Linked DNA regions of Homo sapiens. The protein of the gene in region 2 interacts with the protein of the main gene of each other region in a pairwise test. Each region holds a gene or a part of one and is shown on either strand. Other genes may lie near its edges.

What was found.
Region 1: the proteins of FCRL5 (region 2) and CAGE1 interact in binary tests that used the Homo sapiens proteins (3 or more experiments, as listed by UniProt).
Region 3: the proteins of FCRL5 (region 2) and AMOTL2 interact in binary tests that used the Homo sapiens proteins (3 or more experiments, as listed by UniProt).

Annotation. Positions count from the first base shown.
Region 1 is NC_000006.12:7,379,428-7,387,306, reverse strand, and holds part of CAGE1 (cancer-associated gene 1 protein), read left to right. Parts: intron 1-110; 5' UTR 111-133; coding exon 134-328; intron 329-1,434; coding exon 1,435-1,522; intron 1,523-7,879.
Region 2 is NC_000001.11:157,514,516-157,521,515, forward strand, and holds part of FCRL5 (Fc receptor-like protein 5 isoform 1 precursor), read right to left. Parts: intron 6,778-7,000; coding exon 6,502-6,777; intron 6,047-6,501; coding exon of another isoform or gene 6,033-6,046; coding exon 5,916-6,032; intron 5,256-5,915; coding exon 5,228-5,255; intron 4,268-5,227; coding exon 4,185-4,267; intron 3,983-4,184; coding exon 3,914-3,982; intron 1,359-3,913; coding exon 1,327-1,358; intron 1,250-1,326; coding exon 1,160-1,249; coding exon of another isoform or gene 1,087-1,159; 3' UTR 1-1,086. UniProt on the Homo sapiens protein: Plays an important role in B-cell response to antigen that acts both as a negative or positive coreceptor.
Region 3 is NC_000003.12:134,364,133-134,372,011, reverse strand, and holds part of AMOTL2 (angiomotin-like protein 2), read left to right. Parts: intron 1-517; coding exon of another isoform or gene 518-578; coding exon 579-1,312; intron 1,313-4,149; exon of another isoform or gene 4,150-4,208; coding exon 4,209-4,515; intron 4,516-5,584; coding exon 5,585-5,729; intron 5,730-6,102; coding exon 6,103-6,195; intron 6,196-7,879. UniProt on the Homo sapiens protein: Regulates the translocation of phosphorylated SRC to peripheral cell-matrix adhesion sites. Required for proper architecture of actin filaments.

The sequences.
Region 1 (7,879 bases), on a different chromosome or scaffold from region 2:
AATGACATTTCAAATAAGGGCAGTGAACTTTGCTACTTTCTTAATGAGAAGAGGGATAGGGAAAAAACTTTTTGTTTATACCTACTAATAGACACATTTTTTTTTTAAAGAAGTCTTCTATTGTTCAACAGTTATGAACAAGGACTATCAAAAATTTTGGTCATCACCTTCAGATCCTGTACATTTTGAAGTGGATACTTCTCATGAAAAAGTAGAAAGCATGTCAGAATCGGATACCATGAATGTCAGCAATCTTTCTCAAGGTGTAATGCTTTCACATTCTCCAATCTGTATGGAAACCACCGGCACCACTTGTGACTTGCCTCAGGTGTGCATTGCTTATAAGTTCCAGGAGGCTCAGATGTATTCAGAATTCACATTGTCTTCCATATGAAAATTTCTTCAAAACTATAAGGAACAATAAAACAATATTCGGTGGACACATAAAGGAGGGGAATACAGGGTCTGGTTTTCCCAGTTTCGCTAGCGTAAGATACATTTTGACCAGCCTGGGCAACATGGTGAGACCCCATCTCTGCTAAAAATATAAAAATTAGCCAGGCATGGAAGCGAGCACCTGTAATCCCAGCTACTCTGGAGGCTGAGACAGGAGAATCACTTGAACCTGGGAGGTAGAGGTTACAGGGAGCCAAGATCGCGCCACTGCACTCCAGCCTATGCGAGAGAGCAAGGTACATTTTTACACACAGTGTTAAAACTGATCCTTTCTAGCCAGGAGTGCAGCCAGGGGACGTGACCAATTCAGTCAGAGGCAGGACAAGAGCCCAAGGAACCTGACTTCTAGTCTAATGCATCTTCCACTTACATCAGTATGCAAATGATTCAGTTGTCATTCATAATGACATTGACAGCACCCTGCATATAAATGACAACTTTCCTGTCTTCATGAAAATGCCTAGCTCCCTTTATTAAAAAATAAAAGATTGTAATGTCCCAATATCTTCATGAGTGTTGTGCTAAACGTTTGATAGTCAGTGACATCTGATTCCACTAAATAGGAATTTATAAAAATACATCAAAGATATATGCCTGTTTTATATATCTTCAGTGTTAAAAGACTGAAATAACCATCTTAATGCTGTTTAGACTAGATTTAATAAACATCAAATAATTATCAATACATAAATATGCTATCACGTATCCCTAAGTTTATAGTCACATGATTTGACTTACCAAAAAACCAAAATATTAAAATAACAAGCTATTTGTTACATTGTTGTTTAATATTGGGACTCTGTTAGCATAGTTTTACTAAAAGGGAGCCAAATACATGCTGGGGAAAGATACTAGAAAGCACATTCTACCTATGTAATGAAATATTCTAATAGCAGAATTATGTAACAATGTGCAAATACCTTTAGAAGAAGCTTGTGATGTTTGCTTGAAGTATTGATGCCTTTTTTATTAATACAGAACGAAATAAAGAATTTTGAAAGGGAAAATGAGTATGAATCCACACTTTGTGAAGATGCTTATGGCACACTAGACAATTTGTTAAATGGTAAGTATCTACTTGTTAGCAATATGCAAAAGAGAGAAACTTTTTTTTGTGTTCCGTGATAGTAACAATAGCCAGGTTTTGTGCTAAGCACTTTATATACATCATCACACTTAATCCACAAAAAAATCTTATTGAAATAAGAATTTTAAAAAATTGAAGTAAGGGCTGTTTTTATCTTCATTTTACAGATAAGGAAAATAAGGCTCAGAGAGTAACTTGCCCAGGATTGTGTAGCTTTAAATGAATGAGCCGTGATCAAGTCTCAGACTCAGACACAAAAATTTTCTACTATACAAGTATCCTTAAATGTGTATTGAGGTTGGGTGTGGTGGATCATATCTATAATACCAGTGCTTTGGAAGGCCAAGGCAGGAGGATTGCTTGAGCCAGGAAGTCCAAGGCTGTTATGAGCTATGATCATGTCACTGCACTCCAGTGGGCAACAGAAGGAGAACCTGTCTCTTAAAAAAAAAAAGCGGGGGCCAGGCACGGTGGCTCACGCCTGTAATCCCAGCACTTTGGGAGGCTGAGGCAAGTGGATCACCTGAGGTCGGGAGTTCAAGACCAGCCTGACCAACATGGAGAAACCCCGTCTCCAGTAAAAATACAAAATTAGCTGAGTGTGGTGGTGCATGCCTGTAATCCCAGCTACTTGGGAGGCTTAGGCAGGAGACTCCCTTGAACCCAGGAGGTGGAGGTTGCTGTGAGCCGAGATTGCACCATTGCGCTCCAGCCTGGGCAACAAGAGCGAAACTCCATCTCAAAAAAAACCAAAACAAACAAAAAACACCAGGTACAGTGGCTCACACCTGTAATCCCAGCTCTTTGGGAGGCCAAGGCAGAAGGATTGCTTGAGTCCACTAGTTTGAAATCAGATTGGGCAATAGGACGAAACCCCGTCTCTACTAAAAATACAAAAAATTAGCCAGGCATCGTGGTCCATTTTGGAGGCCTGGGTGGGAGAATTACCTGAGCGCGGGAGGCTGAGACTGCAGTGAGCCGAGATCACGCCACTGCACTGCAGCATGGGCAACCATAGTGAGACCTTGTCTCAAAAAAAAAAAAGAGAGCTGTGTGTTGATTTAACCCCAAATCTGTTATTCTAATCCTAAATTGACAGATGAAAGCTATTTAGGATTTAATCATATAATGAGATACATTGATCATGTTTTTGGTTTTGTTTTTGAAATGGATCTCACTATGCTGCCCAGGCTGGTCTCAAATTCCTGGGCTCAAGTGAGTCTCCTGCCTCGGTGTCCCAAAGTGTTGGGATTACAGGTATCAGCCACCACACCGGGCCCTACACTGATCATGTTTATTAAAGTAAATCTAAATGCTGTATACAAATGTCTTTATTTTTAATACTTGCAAATAATACTAAAATGAAAAGATTTGACAAGGCTTATTGAAATTATGGAATTTAATACATGCAGGTGTAAGAAAAATAAGCGCTGCCGAGGCAGGCGGATCACGAGGTCAGGAGATCGAGACCATCCTGGCTAACATGGTGAAACCCCGTGTCTACTAAAAATACAAAAAATTAGCCGGGCATGATGGTGGGCGCCTGTAGTCCCAGCTACTCAGGAGGCTGAGGCAGGAGAATGGCATGAACCCAGGGGGTGGAGCTTGCAGTGAGCCGAGATGGTGCCACTGCACTCCAGCCTGGGCGACAATAAGTGCTATAAGGATTAGAAAGGAAGAGAAGTAATTATCATTATTTGCAAATATGTACTTTTCTACATAGAAAAGTCATAAGCACCTACAGATGAGCTATTAAAACTAATAAGAAAGTTTAGAAGAAAGCTAGATATAAAATTAATATTAAAAAACCAATAGCATTCAATGCACTAGCAACAACAAATGTAAAACAGTAATTCTTAAAAACTTACTATTATCAGTAACAGCACAAACTAAGGTACCTAAGAATAAATCTAACAAAAAGTGTAAGTTTCCATTAAAAAACATTATAAAACTTTCCTGGAGGCCATAAAAAATAATTAAATGTTTCATGTTCAGATTGTAAAGATGTCAGTTTTCCTGAAGTCTATTGATTAATGCAATTTCATGTATCCTACCTTAATCCTAACATCCCCATTCAGAAGTGAAAAAGTTAAAAAAAATACCCAATACAATTTTGAAAAAGAAGATGTGGAGACTTACCCTGCTAGATAACAAGAGTTATTAGTTATAGTAATTATAACAATGTATTATAGGCAGAAGGGTAACAAACCAGTGGGATAAATAAAAGACAAAGTCCAAAAGTAGACCCATTTATATATGAGGACACCTGGTATTTGATAGAGGTGTCATTATAAACCAGTGGGGGTGTTCATTTGGTTGTGCTGGAACAGTTGGCTCTCTCAATGCAGAAAATGATTAGAACCTTACCTCACACCAAATACAAAATAAAGTCCACATGGGTAAAGGCCTACATGTGAACTGCAAAGTTCTAACTTATAAAAGAAGTGTAGAAAATGCTGTATTAGTCTGTTTTCACACTGCCATAAAGAACTACCTGAGACTGGATAATTTATAAAGAAAAGAGGTTTAATTGGATCACAGTTCCACATGACTGGGAAGGCCTCGAAACAGAATCACGGCACAAGACAAACAGGAAGCAAGGCATGTCTTAAATGACGACAGGAGGGGCAGGGGAACTGCCAAACACTTTGAAACCATCAGATCTTGTGAGAACTCAACTATCGCAAGAACAGCATGGGGAAAACCGTTCCCATGATTTAATTGCCTCCCACCAGGTCCCTCCCTCAATACGTGGGGATTACAATTGGAGATGAGATTTGGGTGGGAACACAGAGCCAAACCATATCAAATGCCTTTGTGACAACAGAAAAGATTTCTTTTTCTTTTTTTTCTTGAGATGGAGTCTCGCTCTGTCACCCAGGATGGAGTGCAGTGGAGCGATCTCGGCTCACTGCAACCTCCACCTTCCGGGTTCAAACTATTCTCCTGCCTCGGCCTCCTGAGTAATGAAACTACAGCTGCCTGCCACTATGTACGGCTAGTTTTTTTGTGTTTTTGTAGAAACAGGGTTTCACCATGTAGGCCAGGCTGGTCTTGAACCCCTGACCTTGTGATCTGCCGGCCTCAGCCTCCCAAAGTGCTGGGATTACAGGCATGAGTCACCACGCCCAGCCTAAGATTTCTTAAGACATGAGAAATGCAGGGCTGGGCACGGTAGCTCATACCTGTAATCCCAGCACTTTGGGAGGCCGAGGCAAGCGGATCAGGAGGTCAGGAGTTCAAACCCAGCCTGGCCAATATGGTGAAACCCCCGCCTCTACTAAAAATACAAAAATTAGCTGGGCATAGTGGCGCGTGCCTGTAGTCCCAGCTACTCAGGAGGCTGACGCAGGAGAATCACTTGAATCCGGGAGGCGAAGGTTGCAGTGAGCCGAGATCGTGCCACTGACTCCAGCGTGGGTGACAGAGTGAGACTCTGTCTCAAAAAAAAGACAGGAGAAATGCAATCCATAATCGATGCATTGACTACATTAAGAAAACGTCTGTATGGCCAAAGTATAATAAAGTAAAAAGCATGGAGTGAAGATACATGCAATATGTATAATTGACAAAGATTTGGTATCTAAAATAAAGAACTACAAGTCACTTAGAAAAAGGCACATAATGGCTGGGCACGGTGGCTCACGCCTGTAATCCCAGCACTTTGGAAGGCCAAGATGGGCGGATCACGAGATCAGGAGATTGAGGCAATCCTGGCTAACACGGTGAAACCCCGTCTCTACCAAAAATACAAAAATTAGCTGGGTGTGATGGTGGGCGCCTGTAGTCCCAGCTACTTGGGAGGCTGAGAAAGGAGAATGGCGTGAACCCAGGAGGCAGAGCTTGCAGCGAGCCGAGATCGCGCCACTGCACTCCAGCCTGGGGACAGAGTGAGACTCTGTCTCAAAAAAAAAAAGAAAAAGGCACATAATTCAGGCCGGGCACAGTGGCTCACACTTGTAATCCCAGCACTTTGGGAGGCTGAGGTGGGCAGATCACATGAGGTCAGGATTTCAAGACCAGCCTGGCCAACATGGTGGAATCCCATCTCTACTAAAAATACAAAAATTAGGCGGGCATGGTGGTGCACGCTTGTATTCCCAGCTACTTGGGAGGCTGAGGCATGAGAATTGCTTGAACCCAGGAGGTGGAGGTTGCAATGAGCCGAGATCGTGCCACAGCACTCCTGCCTGGGTGACAGAGACTCTGTCTCAAAAAAAAAAAAAAGGCACGTAATAGAAAAACAGGCAAAGTATATGTATTAGTAGTTTACTGGGGCTGCCATAACAAAACACCACAAACTGGGTAGTGTAAACAACAGAAATTGATTTTCTCATTCTTAGAGGCTGGCAGTCCAAGATCAAGGTGCCAGCACGGTTGCTTTCTACTGAAGCCTCCCTCCCTGGCTTGCAGATGGCCAGCTTCTTGCAGTGTCTCACATGGCCTTTTGTCTTTGTGTATGCCTTGCTGCTGTCTCTTCCTCCTCTTATAAGGACACCAGTCATACTGGATTAGGGCCTACCCTTGTGACCTCTTTTAAGCTCAATTACTTTTTTAAAGGCCCTGTCTGCAAATAAGAGTCATGTTTTAAGGTACTAGGGGTTAGAGCTTCAGCATATGAATTTTGGGGGCACACAATTGAGCCCATAACAGTATACAACAAGAAGATCACAGAAAAAGAAACCTGTAAGACCATTAAATACATGAAAGGATGTACATTAAGAAGGTCACAGTAAAATACCATTTCATGCATATGAATTTGACATGTTTTGGAGAGATGTGTAGAGCAAAGGAACCCAGAGGCTACTGGTAGAAGCATAAATTGGTACACTTTGGAGAGTAATTTTGCAATATCTAGTAAAGTTGAAGATATGTATTTTCTATAATCCAGCAATTTCACTTCTAGGTGTATCCCCAGAACCTAGCCAAAAGTTTTTACATTGGCATAGAAGGAAACATGTTCACTGCAGTGCTGTTTTTAAGGGCAAAATTAGAAGCAACTTAAATAGCCAACAAAAAAGGAATAAAGTGTAATCTTTCAGTAGAATGAACTACATATATATGTATATATGTGGCTAAGCCTCAGAAGCAAAATTTTGTGTGAAATAAAGACTTTTTTTTTTTTTTGAGATGGAGTCTTGCACTGTCACCCACGCTGGAGTGCAGTGGCATGATCTCGGCTCACTGCAACCTCCGCCTCCCAGGTTCAAGTGGTTCTCCTGCCTGAGCCTCCTGAGTAGCTGGGATTACAGATGTGCACCACCACGCCCCACTAAGTTTTGTATTTTTAGTAGATACGGGGTTTCACCATGTTGACCAGGCTGGTCTCGAATTCCTGACCTCAGGTGATCCACCCACCTCAGCCTCCCAAAGTGCTAGGATTACAGGCGTAAACCACTGCGTCCAAGACTTTTATATGGCTATAGATAGAGTGAGATGCTATTTATGTAAAATATAAAAGCACATAAAACAATACTATATATTAATCACTCACCTAAAGTGTTGCAGGGTATTTTGGAGTTTGAGGGAAACAGTGACACTGGACATCTATCAGACCCCCACAATCTGTTAGCTGTAGTTTTCACTATAAACCCATACTATAGTCCTTCCTATGATGTCTTATTTGTAAAGGTAGGTTTTTGGAGGTTGCTATAATAAAAAGCAAGTCCCGTATGAAAATCATTGTGGAATAGGAAGTGAGAGTGGTGGTCTCCAATCTGATTCCACGATTTGAGGTGCTGTACGGTGCCTAACAGTGTACATCCAAGTAGTAAAGTGTGGTTGTTTAAGAATAAAATATTATATTTTTCTTTTAGTTTATGTGTATTTTCAAACAGCTAATAACTTAGGACAAATACTAGTTTGAACTTAATTATTTACTAAATGGAACTTAAGTATTCCTTTTGGTCCAGAGGTACTGTGAAAAAAAGTACTGAGACATTAAGGGTGTCACAAAATGAGGAAATCTGGGAACTTTATTCTTTGGCAAGATTATGTTGATTTTATTATTTAGGATACATAAATCAGTAGTAAAAGTAAAATGGGAATGGGAAGAATGAATACATATGGGCTTCAGTACACTGGTTATCTCTGGGGAGGAGGAAAGTTAGATAAAAGGGATCAATAATTTGTAACATTCTGTTTTCTTATTTGCTCCTGATTTTAAAAAACATTACATCTGCATAATTTGTCATATTGAAAAATAGTATAGCATAGCATTTAGAAGTAGTAGTCTAGAATCTCAGCAGCACTGCTTAGCAGCTCTGTGACTTTGGACAAGTGACTTTAACATCTCTTACACTTCAGTTTCCTTATCTGTAAAATAGGGATAATAAC
Region 2 (7,000 bases):
TGGGCCCTGGGCAGCCAGAGCCACACATTCCCTCTCCATGGGCCTCTGCTGAGACCTATAGGGCTTCACATGCATGCAGTGCAGTCCCAGGGCCAGCAGCATCAGCATCCCCTGGGAACATGTTAGAATGGCAGTCTCAGGCTCTACGCAGACCCACTGAATCAGTATCTGTATTTTCACAGGATCCTCAGGTGATCCACAAGCACATGAAAGTGTGAGAAGCCCTTCCTCTTGCTGAACAGTTTCCTCATCCAAGCTCCTTCTCTTCCATTGTTTCTTAGGGAAGCCAGAATACCTCCCGGATTTCCTAGGGAGTGCACTGGATTTTATGCCAGTTTGATTACCCACAGTTTTCTTCCTCATTCATTCATTCATTCAGTCAGTCAGTCAAATAGTAATTGAGCACCTCCTGTGTTCCAGTATGTGTTCTGTCTGCACCCCTGGTCCTCCTGGCCTTGACTTGCTGGGTTACTTCTGTTAGGATGGGAAGAACTTGGGACTTGGTGTATGAAAGCCACTTACTTGGGCAGGTAGACACTGACACATGAGCAGGAGAGAAGTTACCTTGGTGTCAAGTGCCGACCTTAGAGTTTGAGACAGGTGGAGGAGTGTGAAATGCAGCCCCCGTGGGGAGACCCATCACATGTCCCATGTGCACAGGCTGTGTGCTGTCCCATTTGGCAGCACACTGCAGTAGCCCCACCAGGCTGATGACAATTGAGAAATGCATCCACCCAAAGCAGGAACTCTGTGTCGGAGTTTAGGAGCACCTGAGCTGTTAGGCCAGCCCGGCATCTCCTGAAGGCCCACTCTCCCTTTGTGTGGTAAGACCCCCTCTGTGGGGGTGTGATGAGAGCAGTACTCAGAACAGCAACCACAGCTGAAGCCCACTAAGGAATCCAGGAGATGTGCTGGGCCCTGGAGTGGGAGCACCTTGCCACTGGATTAAAAAACCTGCCAGTCAGGGCTTTAACTGGGAAACAGGTGACAGTCCAGCAGGGCCCTGCATTCTGGTCAGACTGAGAATGAGGACATGTGAAACAAAGGCCAGTAGATATGGTCTGGGGCAGCCTAAATCTTCCCACTTCAATGCTGCTTCTCCCCCAAGGGGAACTTTGGGGTGCAGAGGCTGAAACAGCAGTTGGAGAGACGTGTGGACTCATCTGTGAGGAGCTGAGGAAGCCAAGAACAGGGATCCGGAAACCGGGGTTGACGCCACCTTAACTTCAGAGTAGATGATAGGGGAACCCTAGGAGGCAAGAGCACATGCGTGAGGACCAGGGTGGGCCTGGGGGTGGGGGAGGGCATGCAGAAGGGGAGACTCACCTTGTTCCTGAGATGCCTGGGGTCAGAGGCCACTGTGGAAAGAGGAAAGTGTTCAGTTGTGGAAGACTGGCATGGGGCTCTTCCCTTGTGCCTGCGCTGTGGGGCCAGCCCTGAGCCTCCTGGAGGCCCGCTCTCCCTCTGTGCGGTGAGTAGCCATTCCTCTTAGTTGGTGCTCACCCAGTCCCTCTCCATTCCCAACTCCCTCAGCCTCTCAGCACTGACAGACCCTCTCTTCAACTCCCCTTCACACTTTGTGGCCCACTCTGAGCTGCCTAGAGGCCCTCAAGAGAAAGTCATTTGTCTTTTATCTTGTTAGTTATTTGAGCATAATTGGTATTATTGTTCTGGGAAGGTGTGGTGGGTGCAAGTTTTAGAGAGCACACTCCATCAGGGTCTAGACCACCTGAAACTGAGCCTGCCGCCTGTCTTGTCACCTCCGTGGTTGGGGGAAGTCACTCAACATCTCTTGCCTCAGTTGCCTCATCTATATGATGGGAATAAAAATATCCTCTGCCTGTAAGGTTGTGGTGAAGCTATATGAGTTTACACATATGTGTGAGCACATGTATCTGTGTGTCTGTGCATATATTATTTCTATCATCTGTCATGTATTGAGCAGTTTCTATGTGTCAGGTACAGTCCTGATTGCTATATTCAATACATTTTCTCTCTCTCTATTATCATATGTATGCATGCCATAGTTCTATATAAGTGCTACAGGTATAGTTCTAAGAGCTATCCATACAAATATAGTGTATTTATTTATCGCACTTATAGAACTATACCCAGCACATAATAGGAACTATTCAGCACATGATAGATATTATAAATTATTATTGTTATATTATCATCAAACTGGAGAGAAATATGACATTCTCCAGACAAGGCTCTGCCCTTTTGGCTTGGAATGAGCATCAGGACTCCCTGGAATTGCATGAAGAAGCAGAGTTTGGTCTAGAGTTTGGACTCTGGAGAAGACTGTTTGGTGATTGACTATAAGATTTCAGGCAAGTCATTTAAGGTGTCTATGCCTTGGTTTCCTCATCTGTAAAATGGGAGTAGTAACAGCGCATACCTCAAAGGGGCTTGTAAGAGTGAATGAGTTCACATGTCTCAGAGGGGTGCTATAGAACCAAGAATGAGGCACAAACACAATTCACTTGACTTTATATAAGAAAAATTAGAAAACCAGAGAGGGAAGCACACTGGCTAAAATCACGCAGCACTTTTTATGAAGCAGAGGTAGAAAGAAAAGCCTGCCGTGAAGGACTTTGTTCCTCTTTCCTGCTCCGAGTAAGGAGGCAGCCGGGCTGGGATTCCCTCATTTCAAACCACCGACTGTGAGTGAGGGTTGATGACATAGCCAGACCTCCAGCATGTAGTCATCGTCACAGCTGCTCAACCCTCTGCAGTTTCGACAGCATTTCCACACCTATTTTCTCATTTAGTCCCCACAGTTACCCCATGAAACAGCATGGTAGCTGTAATAATGTGCCCCCAAAGATGTCACGCCCTAATTGCTGCAACCTGTGACTATATTACCCTAAGTGGAAAAGAGGACCTTTCAGATGTGATTAGGATTACAGACCCTGAGATAGGGAGATTATTCTGGGTTATCCAGATGGGCCCAATATACTCATATGATTCTCTAAAACCCAAGGACTTTTCTCAGGTGAGGTCAGAAGGAGGCCTGTCTATGGAAGAATGATTAGAGAAATGTGACTTTGCTGGCTTTGGGAAAGGAAGGGGACATGGGTGCAGGAAAGTGGATGGGCCTCCAGGGAGGAACACAGCCCTGCCAACACCATGATTTTAGCCCAGTGAGACCGGCGTCAGACTTCTGACCCACAGAGCTGTAAGATGATAAATTTGTACTGCTTCATCCCCCCAAATTTATGGTCATTTGTCACAGCAGCAATCAGAAACTAGTACAGGTAGGTAGGTGCTATCAACTAAATATTTGTGTTGCTCTCCAAATGTATGGGTTAAAACCTAATCCCCAATGTGATGGCATTTGGAGGTGGAGCCTTTGGGTGACAATTATGTCATGATGATTATCATGATGAGACATGAAAGATGATCTCTCCCTCTCTCTCTGCTGTGTGGGGGATACAGCAAGGAGTCATCTGTCTGGAAAATGGGAATAGGGCCCTCACTAAGAACCTGACCATGCTGGCACCTTGATCTTGGATTTCCAGCCTCCAGAATTGTGAGAAATAGATATTAGTTCTTTAAGTCACCTAGTTTATGGTACTCTGTTACAGGAGCCAGAACTGACTAAGACAGTAGGGAAGTAGTCACAGTTTATGGATAGGGATATGGAAGGTCTGAGAGGTTAAGCGAATGCCCAAAAAGATAGTTTTGTTATTCAGGTTATACTGGGGCCCTCTGCAGAGAATAGGGAAAGGAGAGTGCAGGGGAGGCTTGGATTCACCTGAAGCAGCATAGGCACACATAAAGAAGCCCCATGACCCAGTGGGAGGGGCGGCTCTATGCCTGTCTGGCTCAGATCTGCTGAGTGGGTAGAAACTGAGCTATACTGTCTAAGTTGAGGGTGGGCCAGAACAGAGACATCCTTGGGTCTTACCTGCATGTTTCTTTTTCTCTTGGATGATCCGTACTTCTGAGTAAACCACATTTTCTCCTCTAGGATTTGCTTAGAAAAAAGTTGAAGTTTCAGAGGATGCTGAGGTTCTTGCCTCTTGTTAGAGATACTTCCTCCTCCCCCAGCCAGAGTCTCTTTTCTGGAAGGACTAGAGCCCTCTAGGCCTCGGCATAGTCCCTCCCCATCTCCTGCCCCACCGCTTTCCCACACCAGCCCTCCAGCTTCTGCCAAATGCAGGATCCTCGGGCCTCACCATTAGTGTACACTGGTTGCAGCTCTTCCCAGGCTGGTACATTGTGATAGGTGGGCTCTTGGGAGTCCGAGTCTGAAGGGCTCCTGTGAGACAGAGAAATGTGAATGTTTCTTAGGAATCCAGACAAAGTAGCTATAATGATCACTCCTAGTGAGTGACTTCTTACTGCAGGGTGGCTGCCAGGCCTGGAAACATGAACAAGTACATAACAAACTGACCATGGGCATTCTATTATGAATCATAATCATATTATATATGTTTCCAGGCTTTCTGGTCATCTAGTGTGTAACAGGCATGGTGCTGATGCTTACAGCAATACGTTGTTAGTTCTATTTCATCCTCGTTTTAGCTGAAACAAACGGAGGCTCCAATAAGTGACTTATGAAGATCATGTAACCAGAAAGGGGATGAGCCAAGGCTCAAAGCTGGCTCCGAACCCTGCATGCTCAGAGAGATCAGTGACCAGAAGGCTCCGAGGTGCTCTACATGTTTGGATGCTGCTATCGTGGGCTTGCCCAGGGATAGCTGTGAGCCTTTGTGTGGCTCCTAAAGTCAGCCTTAGGGATACAAGATGGTGGCCCCTTCTTCACAGGGACTACCTCCTGCTGGCAGAGTGACCTCTCTGGGTGGCCAAGTTGTGCGGCTCCATCTTCTCAGTTGTTATCACAAGAGGTGTTGATGAGATCAGCATCTCCAGAGATTTCTAGGTTGACTGAGCTAAGGTCATCTCAAGATATGGAAAGACTTGGTGGTCATAGTGGTCATTCAGACAACCAAGCCAACAATGGTCCAAGGATGTGGGTTAATAAATGAAAAGGCAATTAATACTTGATGAGATAACAGCCTATACAGCTAAGGGGGTGGGTGCAAAGGTCCTGGGAATTGCCTTAAGATATCCCCAGGGACGTACAACAGGTAGTGGCCACACCCCAGCTCAGCAGCACCTGGCAGAAACTGTGCTCTTGGTAATCATCAGATTCAATTCCATTTTTCCACCCTGTGGACATTTCACTAATCACACAGGAATGCAGCTCAGCTCTTACCTGGCGGGGTCAGAGGCAGGCTTTCTCCCTGTAAAGGAAAGCAGAGGAGCATTGGATTCAGGAAGATGAGACCCTCAGTGGGGCACAGCTCAGGCAAGGCTCACTTAGAAACTGCCAGGAGTTGCTGTCACTGAAGGTTGAATCCTTCTTTGTTATGCCCCAGGGAGGTAGCAGATTGGGCAAAAACTACTGACCCTGCCAGAGGGGTTTGCTATGATGTGAAACGGGAGTCCACAATCCGTAATCCTTTAACCTGGAGATTTTAAAGATAATCTCCAAGGCAGGAAAACAGACTTGATCAACTATAAAAATAGTGTACATTTAAAAAATCGGAAAATTACTGAATCCTATCTGGTTTCTATTTTCATTTCTATTTCTCTGAGTTTTTCTCCTCCTCTTCCCATTCGTTGGGGGGGTCTTATAAGGGTCGAGAGGAAGACACTCTGTAGTTTATGATGTTGGATAAACTACATCTCATCAAGACGTCTCCCACCTTATAGGTCTGTTTTGGAAACTGTGCATTTGGTAAAAGCAATTCGGGAGGACCCAGCGGGAAAGGAAGAGGATTGAGGGACAGAGCGGATGAGCTCTTGCGAGCCTGGGATGGTCACAAAGGCAGCATGAAGCCCAAGGGAGCGTTGCTGGGAAGGGCATGAACTCAAGCCAAGGTGTGCCCAGAGTCACCCACCTGCTTTTCTCGAGAGCCAGCAGTAGAGCAGCAGTGCCCCCGCAGCAAGGCCTGCTATGCTGAGCAGGCCCCCGGCGACTCCTGTGGCAAAAGGGCCACTTCTGTTCGCGGTCAGCCCTGAGGGGGAGACCCTGTGTGTGAGCCAGAGGAGAGGCTGTGGTCTGGAACTGCCCGCTCCCGGAAGCTGCTGCCTGGGCCTGACGGTGAACCTAGGTGAGCAGGTCCCCGGCAGCTAAGCAGGGGCTGGTGTGGCACAGAAGATGGCTCCTGTCTTTGTGAGGAAGCCGTCTCTGCGCCTGAGACAAGTGTCCAGGGTCAGGGTGGCCGGTGGCCAGTGAGAGAGGAGGCAGCCAGGTGAGGACCTCTAAAGTCAGTGGCGCTCTTGCGCCCAGCCCGCCAACCCGCGCTCTCAGCCCCAACGCCATCACTTCAGAAGCACTTCAGGAAATATAGCAGTTTAGAGAGCTGCCAGCTGTGTTACTTCGCCCTGAGGAGTGCCTTTCTGATCAAGCACTGTGAGGGTTATCAGAGGGTCCGCGGAGGAAACATTTTGTCCGCATCTGTGGCCCGGGCACGGGAAACTTACCTGTGATATAAAGTGTCACTGTCTCACTGCGCTGGGCCCCGAGGCCATTGTCGGCCTCACAGGAGTAGTTTCCAGAGTGCTCTGCAGTCAGAGAGAGGTTTAAGGACGCTCCTCCAGAGGGGGACGACCTATTTCCTAGGGTGACATCCTCATGAAAAAACCGGTACAGGATCAGGGGAGAGCCTCTCAGGGCCTCACAGTGAAGCTCCAGCAGGTCCCCCACCGCAGCATGGGTCCCGGGAGCCCTGAGGGTGAGGACCGGGCGAGACACCGGAACTGAAAGAGAACAAAAAGTCAACAGCAGTTTCTGCTTCTAACATATTTGTAAGAAACAAAAGGTATCATAAACAAATGTAAAAAGTCATATCTCAATCTTGGAAAGTAGATTAAAACATAGATGATAAAGCTAATTACTTTGACCTGCTAATAGTTTTCAGTGTACAAAAATATCCAATAGAAAACTGTAAAAAGTGTATAAATCACTGAAAACTTCAAATAG
Region 3 (7,879 bases), on a different chromosome or scaffold from region 2:
CCTGCCAATAAATTGGGGCCCCATCCACCCCTAGACTGAATAGCTAAGTGGTTAGATCTGAACTAGGCCTGCCTTAGAATTGCCCATCAGGCTGTTTGATGTGTAGCTGGCTGTACGGGTGGTGGTTCCTGGTGGGTTATCTTCTGGTTTCCTGTTGTCTCTCTCCAGGAATAGTAAGTCTCCATGAATGTTATCATTAGTAATCGTTTACCAGGATTTTCACTGTGCCAGGAGCTCGCAGGCCACTGCCTCTTTTTTTTTCCTCATCTCCATGAGTCAAGCAGAATTCTTTGCATTTTTCTGGTGGAGAAACTGAGGCTCAGAGATTAGGTAACTTGTCTTAATCAGTAGATGGCAGCACTGGTACTTGAACCCAGGCTTGTGTGAACCGCCCCACCCCTGCTCTTCACTTTTATGCTTTCCACCAGAGTAATAATGGAAATCCTGGAAAGCCTTCTCCTTTCCCATGGGTTCCCACTGATTGCTTTTCTCTCTCTCTCTCCCCACCCCACTCCAGGTGCTCTGGGGCCAGGTGCCACCGGCCATTGTCCAGGCAGCTGTGTGCAAGCCAAAGAAGCATGAGGACACTGGAAGACTCCTCGGGGACAGTCCTGCACCGCCTCATCCAGGAGCAGCTGCGCTACGGCAACCTGACTGAGACGCGCACGCTGCTAGCCATCCAGCAGCAGGCCCTGAGGGGTGGGGCTGGAACTGGGGGTACAGGGAGCCCCCAGGCCTCCCTGGAGATCCTGGCCCCAGAGGACAGTCAGGTGCTGCAGCAGGCCACCAGGCAGGAGCCCCAGGGCCAGGAGCACCAGGGCGGTGAGAACCACCTGGCAGAGAACACCCTCTACCGGCTATGCCCACAGCCCAGCAAGGGAGAGGAGCTGCCCACCTATGAGGAGGCCAAAGCCCACTCGCAGTACTATGCGGCCCAGCAGGCAGGGACCCGGCCACATGCGGGGGACCGAGATCCCCGTGGGGCCCCGGGAGGCAGTCGGAGGCAGGACGAGGCCCTGCGGGAGCTGAGGCATGGGCACGTGCGCTCGTTGAGTGAACGGCTCCTTCAGTTGTCCCTGGAGAGGAACGGCGCCCGGGCCCCCAGCCACATGAGCTCCTCCCACAGCTTCCCACAGCTGGCCCGCAACCAGCAGGGCCCCCCACTGAGGGGCCCCCCTGCTGAGGGCCCAGAGTCCCGAGGACCCCCACCTCAGTACCCTCATGTTGTACTAGCTCATGAGACCACCACTGCTGTCACTGACCCACGGTACCGTGCCCGCGGCAGCCCGCACTTCCAGCATGCTGAAGTCAGGTAACTCTCCCCACCTTGGGCTTTCCAACTCCTGGCTTTCTTCCAGCACAGGTCTCTCAGGGAGGAGAGCCTCAAGATCACAGCTTGTGTCAGAGCTAGCAAGATCCACCCCACCTCCAACCTGAGAAGGGAGAGCTAATGCCTGGCAGAGAAGAGGGACTTAGCTGAGGTCCCCTAAGAAGTTAGTGGTGTCCCTTGCCTTAATTCAGAGATAGGCACCATTGTCTGCTTAGCTGTAGCATTCAAGTAACTAGAGTCCCCAGAGTACACAAATTGCAGCAGGGGGTTAAAGGTTAGATTTCAGAAAGAACTTCCTAAAGGCAAGGTTGGGAATGATTGCCAAACTGTTTCCAAGTTAAGCAGGAAGAAGGTGGGACTTCCTTCTCTGGAGATTTTTTAAGAAAATATGAGCAGCTTGCTTTCTGTGATTATTGGGAGGCATTCCTAACTAGAGGCTGGAAAGGCCCAGTGGTCTGATTAGAGACCTCTCAGCATCTTACACCAGGGCAGGAGCTTACTTGTCTCTCCTCTTCATTTCCTGCCATATGCTCCCTGCGTCTGCAGCCTGCAGTGGGAAAGGATTCTGGGTCCAAGTGGGCCCTTTTCTGGTGAGGCTCAGGAGAGGCTGCTGGGCCATGGTAGGGACTTAGAGTTTGATTCTGAGTGTGCTGGGAGGCCCTCAGGGGATGTGATTTGGTTTACCTTTTCTAAATGCTCTCTCTGGCTACATGCAGAGCATGGTTTGTAAGGGGCCAGAATGGAAGCAGGAAGACCCGGGGAGGCAAGAAGTCTAGAGAGTTTGGAGAAATAAGTGTTCCTAGAAACAAGGCCCTGCCTCACGCTTCTCATCTTGCCCAGCATCTTTTCCAGAGAAGCAGACACAGCCATCACTGCTGCATCTCCCCCTATGGGAGTCCAAGAAACCCCACCAAGGGACCCCAAGGATTTCAGACTCTTCCTCTGGTGGCCCAAGGTCAAAGTCTGGTTCTCTTCATGCCTGCTGTGTTCCTTTAGTAAACACCCACTTTCCCACCGTCCGGCTTTCCTTGCTCTCGAGAAATGAGTGACATGATGGGGTTGGTATGGCGGAACCAGAGGTTGGAGCCTCATAGTTTTTCTCCAGCCTCCACCCCTCCAGACTCGCACTTTATCGCCCCTCTCAGGGCTCGGTCAGGAAGAGTTTCGGAAGCTGAGTGGTGGTTTCTTCTTTTGGACCAGCCTTATTGAACCCTGTCAGGAAAAGATAGTAATCACGGCAAGGAAGTAGACTGTTTGCAGGAGAACAAAAAGCAGGGGAGGGAGAGGACGAGGAGAAAGGAAAGCAAGTGTGAAGGGAAAGGAGTTGCTATTCTTTCTCAGAGCTAAGTCATCCCCAAAGAATGCCAGTTGTGTCTGCCTGGCCCAGTGCAGGGGGGAGCAAGTTCTTGAAGCAACCTTGAGAATGGCCATTTTAGCAGTGGAATGGAGAGTTTGAGCACTCCAGTGGGGACCCTCTTCCCAGCTCTTACTGGAAGCCCCACCTTAGGTAGTAGGAGAAATACATCTGCCCAATATCTCCTTTCAGATGATCCAGTGAAGATTATTTGTTAGGAAACGGGCTAGACTCCTAGCCTAGGGTCCTGAGAAGAGCAGGGGGGCCATAGGCTGCATGGCAGCAAGAGTCAGGGGCAGGCTGGGTGTGCATTAGTGCTGAGATGATGCACCCAGAAGGGGAATTCGGTTTTTGCGGGGCTTCTGGGACTTGGAAGATTCTTTGTGAAACTGAGGCAGTTGTGACACTGGGAATCACAAGGTCCCAGGAAGGCCCTTGGACTCCCCGTGCCTCTTGCCCTTTGCTCCTTCCCTCAACATGGAGCCCTGGGGGTGATGTTACACCAGTGCCAGAGGCCAATAGAATATTGTCCCCTGAACTCAGTGACCACAGTAGTCCAGAGGCAGCCCTTACTCCCAAGGAAACCAAGAGTTTGGGCCACATTTGTTCTCTAAACTGAGGGTAAACTGAGGCTCCTACTAGAAGAGATGGAGGATGGGCCACCATTATAGGAGCACCTGCCACCCGCCCAGCACTGGCCCAGCACTCTGCCAGGCCTTACATAGCGTCATCCTCAACAAATCCCAGCGAGGCTGGAGACCCTCATGATGCAACAGAGCAATGCCCAGTCTGTGGGGCTGAGGCACTCGCCCAAGGTTAAACAGCTGGAGCAGGGATTTGAACCCCTATTTGTCAGACTCTAGAGCTCAGACTCTTACCCTGACATTTGTCTCATTGCTCTAACCTTAACTGGAGTCTTCTAAAAATGACTCTGGGTGAGTGGGGGGTGGGGGGTGGCAGGACTTGAAATAGGAAGGAGAAAATGAGTGCTGCTTTGGCAGTCTTGAAACTGGCGACTCGTGTAATAGACACAAGGTTGCTGCTGGGGCCCAGCCACCAAAGTTGTCCTGGGGCCTGGAAGGTTATATGCTCAGTCATGATTGACATGGCCTCCAGCCCCAAAAATAACCTTCCATTGATTAGAAGTGTCAGGGTGCATTTTTTAAGATGATGTATTTAAGCATTAGTTGCTTAGGAGGCCCAGGATTGCTCAGGCTGATCCCCAAGGCCCCAGCCACTGTGAGGCGGGTATGAAACAAGCATCCTGACATTAATCCCCTCTAGCCCTGCTGTCTGACTCTTGAGAGCCTCAGGCAGAAACATTTGGAAAAGGCCTTCCCTACTGGTCCCTGCCTAACACTAGAGGGTTGAATAATTATCTGCAGTAATTTTAATAATATATTAATTATTGATAATAATTAACCATCTTCCCAGTATGCCTAGGAGTGGGGTGACCCCGGGCTGCTCTGGTGGGAGCCATGAGGGTCTGTGCTGTCTCTGAGCACCGTCTCTTCTGTTCCCCAGGATCCTGCAGGCCCAGGTGCCTCCTGTGTTCCTCCAACAGCAGCAGCAGTACCAGTACCTGCAGCAATCTCAGGAGCACCCCCCTCCCCCACATCCAGCTGCTCTCGGCCATGGCCCCCTGAGCTCCCTCAGTCCACCTGCTGTGGAGGGGCCAGTGAGTGCCCAGGCCTCCTCAGCCACCTCGGGCAGTGCCCACCTGGCCCAGATGGAGGCCGTGCTGAGGGAGAATGCCAGGCTGCAGAGAGACAATGAGCGGCTGCAGAGGGAGCTGGAGAGCTCTGCGGAGAAGGCTGGCCGCATTGAGAAGGTAGGCCCTGCTGGGGCTTCAGAAGGGCAGACCAGAAAGAGACCCCGAGGGGCTACCTGGGGAGTGGGTAGTCCAAGGAGAGGCAGAGGAGCCTGAAAACTGTTTGGCTGGATTTCTCCCTATCCCTCTGTCTTCCACCTCCCTCACTCCTCATGCACCCTCCTGAGCTGACTCCAGACAGCTGGGGAACAGCCGAGAGGCCGGCAGAGCAGGCCTGGAGCATGAACAGTTGCTGGCCAGTGGTGATTAGAAAGAGCCCATTCACCAGCTCCTTGCACACTCGCACCCTTGCCCTGCACACACCCCCTCCCATGGACACCTCCCACAGAGAGCCCTTTGTGTCCCCCACACAACAGCAAGTCTGTTCCAGGCCAGCCCTGGCCAAAAAGAAAACTTCTCCTCTTGGAAAAAAAATGGGCGACTTGTTGGAATCACAGGCCAGCTAAGAGCACGTGCGGAACCTGCCAGCAGCCAAGTGGGAGGAGCAGCCGGGGCCCAGCTGGCCCTCTGGGTGGATGGTGATGCCTGGGACACCAGGCAGAGGCAGCTCTGCCTGGTGCCCGCTTCTTTAGTGAAGGGTTACCAGTTTTCCGCTGAGGCTCAGTTTTAGCAGATGGCCTCAGGCCTCCCTTGACTGTCCTGTGGTGTCCAAGTTAGGTCAAACCACCCCATCATGGCTGGAGTCTTTCGGTGCCCACTTCTGGCCAACTGTACTCAGTTTCTTGGTGGAAGCCAGCCAAGAGTAGAATGTTTCCTTCTGGACACTGGGCACAGGGAAGCTGTGTTTAGTCACCCCGCAGGCAGCTACTTCCAAAGTACCTGGCCCTGGGTTCACTCAGCATCTGGTCCTTGGGGCAGCCGATGGGACCGTTGCTTGCTGGTCCCAGCAGTCTATTCTACTTCCGGAGGCTACAAGCTTCTGACCATCCCACCATAGTCACCTGGAGGTTTTGCTCCTGTTTGGTGGCCTCTCATCTGTCACCTTTTCTGATGGAGAGTAGTGGGTCAGCCTCGAATCACTCCCTGGGAGCTCTCGCCTTCATTCAGCTCTGCTGTCTGACTCTTGCAGCTGGAAAGCGAAATCCAGCGGCTCTCTGAGGCCCATGAGAGCCTGACCAGAGCCTCCTCCAAGCGTGAGGCCCTGGAGAAGACCATGCGGAACAAGATGGACAGTGAAATGAGGAGGCTGCAAGACTTCAACCGGGATCTTAGAGGTGAGAGCCAGTCACACAGGTGGAGGTTGGAGAACCTCTGCAGAGGACTTACTTCTTTTGTTCTAGAGAAAAATTGGGAATCTCTATTCTCTGTCAAAAGTGCAGATGAACTCAGAGAGCCAGGCTGAGACCCCTTTGGAGCTGCCCTGATAGAGAGATGCTTGTCTCTATGTACTGGGCCTAGGATCCCCTCAGGGATGATGGCTCTTGACAGAGGAGGCTCCCACCCATGGGGCCCTGAGCTGAGCTGGGGTTTCCTTATGAACCCATCCCCAATATGGAGGATACAGCCCCATCCTGATAGGACGTCAGGAAAAATCCCAAGCTGGCAGCTTCACCTGACACTAAAACATCTTTCCTTCCCTTGAAACAGAGAGATTGGAATCTGCAAATCGCCGCCTGGCAAGCAAGACACAGGAGGCCCAGGCCGGCAGTCAGGACATGGTGGCCAAGCTGCTTGCTCAGAGTGAGTAGGGGCCCCACTAAGAAGCCTGGCCTGTGTGCAGGCAATGGGACTGCTGCACACCCTCTGGACTAGGAAGATTGGCCTTCCCCCTTGCAAAGTAGTACTTTGGGAGCAGGTTTACTGCCCACTGTATGCCCAACACTAGACTGGATCTGGGGATAGTGGGGATAAGTGGCTTCCAAAGAAGAATAGGATCTAGTTCTGTATCTTTTAAGAAGATCAGCTGACACAAGAGGGAAAGCCAGGGAGCAGTGATTTGCTGAGCTTCGGTGCTGACCACCAGTGCAGTGCATTGGGCAGTGCGGGAGGCAAGGTAGCCCTGAAGACAGATGAGGTGAAGGAGAAGGACAGGTCTGAGAGCTTCCCAGGGAGTTCCTGGCAACAGAAAGGTCGGGAGTGTGCAATGGGAATGTGAGAGGTAGGGGGGCATGGTGGAGCTGAGCCATAGCAAGCCAAGTGGAGGCATCTGAGGCAGCCAAAAATGGGATCCTAGACCTTAACCAACAGATGCATTCTAAACGGGGCGGTCTAAGCATCCTTGAAGAATGGGCAAGTTCATTGACTAGTCCATTTATTCATTCATTAGCAGATGTGTTTTAAGCAACTGGCAGATGTTCAAGAGAGAATGGGAGCAGGCCCAGGAAGGTACCATGGCAGGGAGGTCAGGAAGGAAGTGGTGAGCTTAAGAAAGGAGCAGGTTCCCACAGATGCAAAAGAACAACGGGGGTGGCCCTAGAAACCGGTGATTAGGAGCCCCGGTGGCCTGAGAGAGGGGCTCTGTGGGGATGGCAGGGGTGGAGAGCCAGCCAGAGGTGAAGGAGCTATTGGGCAGTTCAAGAGGTACATGGGGTGGGTGGCAAAGGGAGCCCTGAGCTCAGCAGCAGGAGGCTCTAGCAATCAGAAGAGACTAAGAACAGTTATTTATTGAGCTCCTACTAGGAGCTTTAGTGCTGTTCAAGGTGTTTGCAGAGAAGTGGAATGGGAGTGGTTGGTAGCTGGGTAAACATGGCTTTGAGTCTTCACAGGAACCCTACTGTGAATGGCACAAAGGGTAGTGTGGGGTGCAGAAATGGAGGAGCAGCTTGAGGACTTAGCTCTGGCTGGCAGCACCCCTATCTTCCTTCAAAGAGGGTTCAAAGACTAGGGCAGGGAATGGGGGAACACAGCACTGAAGGAATTGACAGGGTGGGGCAGGAGGTAGGCTGGTCTCTTCTGGCTGGGTGGGGTGAGATGGCAGCGGCTTAAGGTCTCTGGGAAGGAGTCAAAGGGAAGGAGGGAGAAAGGGGAGGGGGCAGCCCTGGGGTTTCCCTGAGGAGTCTGGGGAGGAGAAGCTGCAAGGGCACGGCAGATTAGGGTGCCTGTGGAGGAAGGCGGACTTCTGGAGCCTGACTCTGCCAAAGAAAGGAAGCCATGGGGCGGGTTTCTGGGAGCTTGCTAGTGGGTGAGAAGAGGGGGGCCGGCCGGGAGGCGTTTCCGCTCCCCGGGGAGCGAGTGAGCGCCGAGCTGTTCTTGGCTCCTCGCTGGAGCCATTAATCTTGCAGCCGCGGGTGACCTGGATGCCTGGCATTCCAGAGCCGCGAGCTGTTCCGCTCCCGGCCCGCCCCCCGCCGCTCCCTCCCGTGCGCGCTGCCTGGCGCCCTTCGCCCGGCTTTGGGAGGAGGGAGGGTGAGCACAAAGGGAGCCT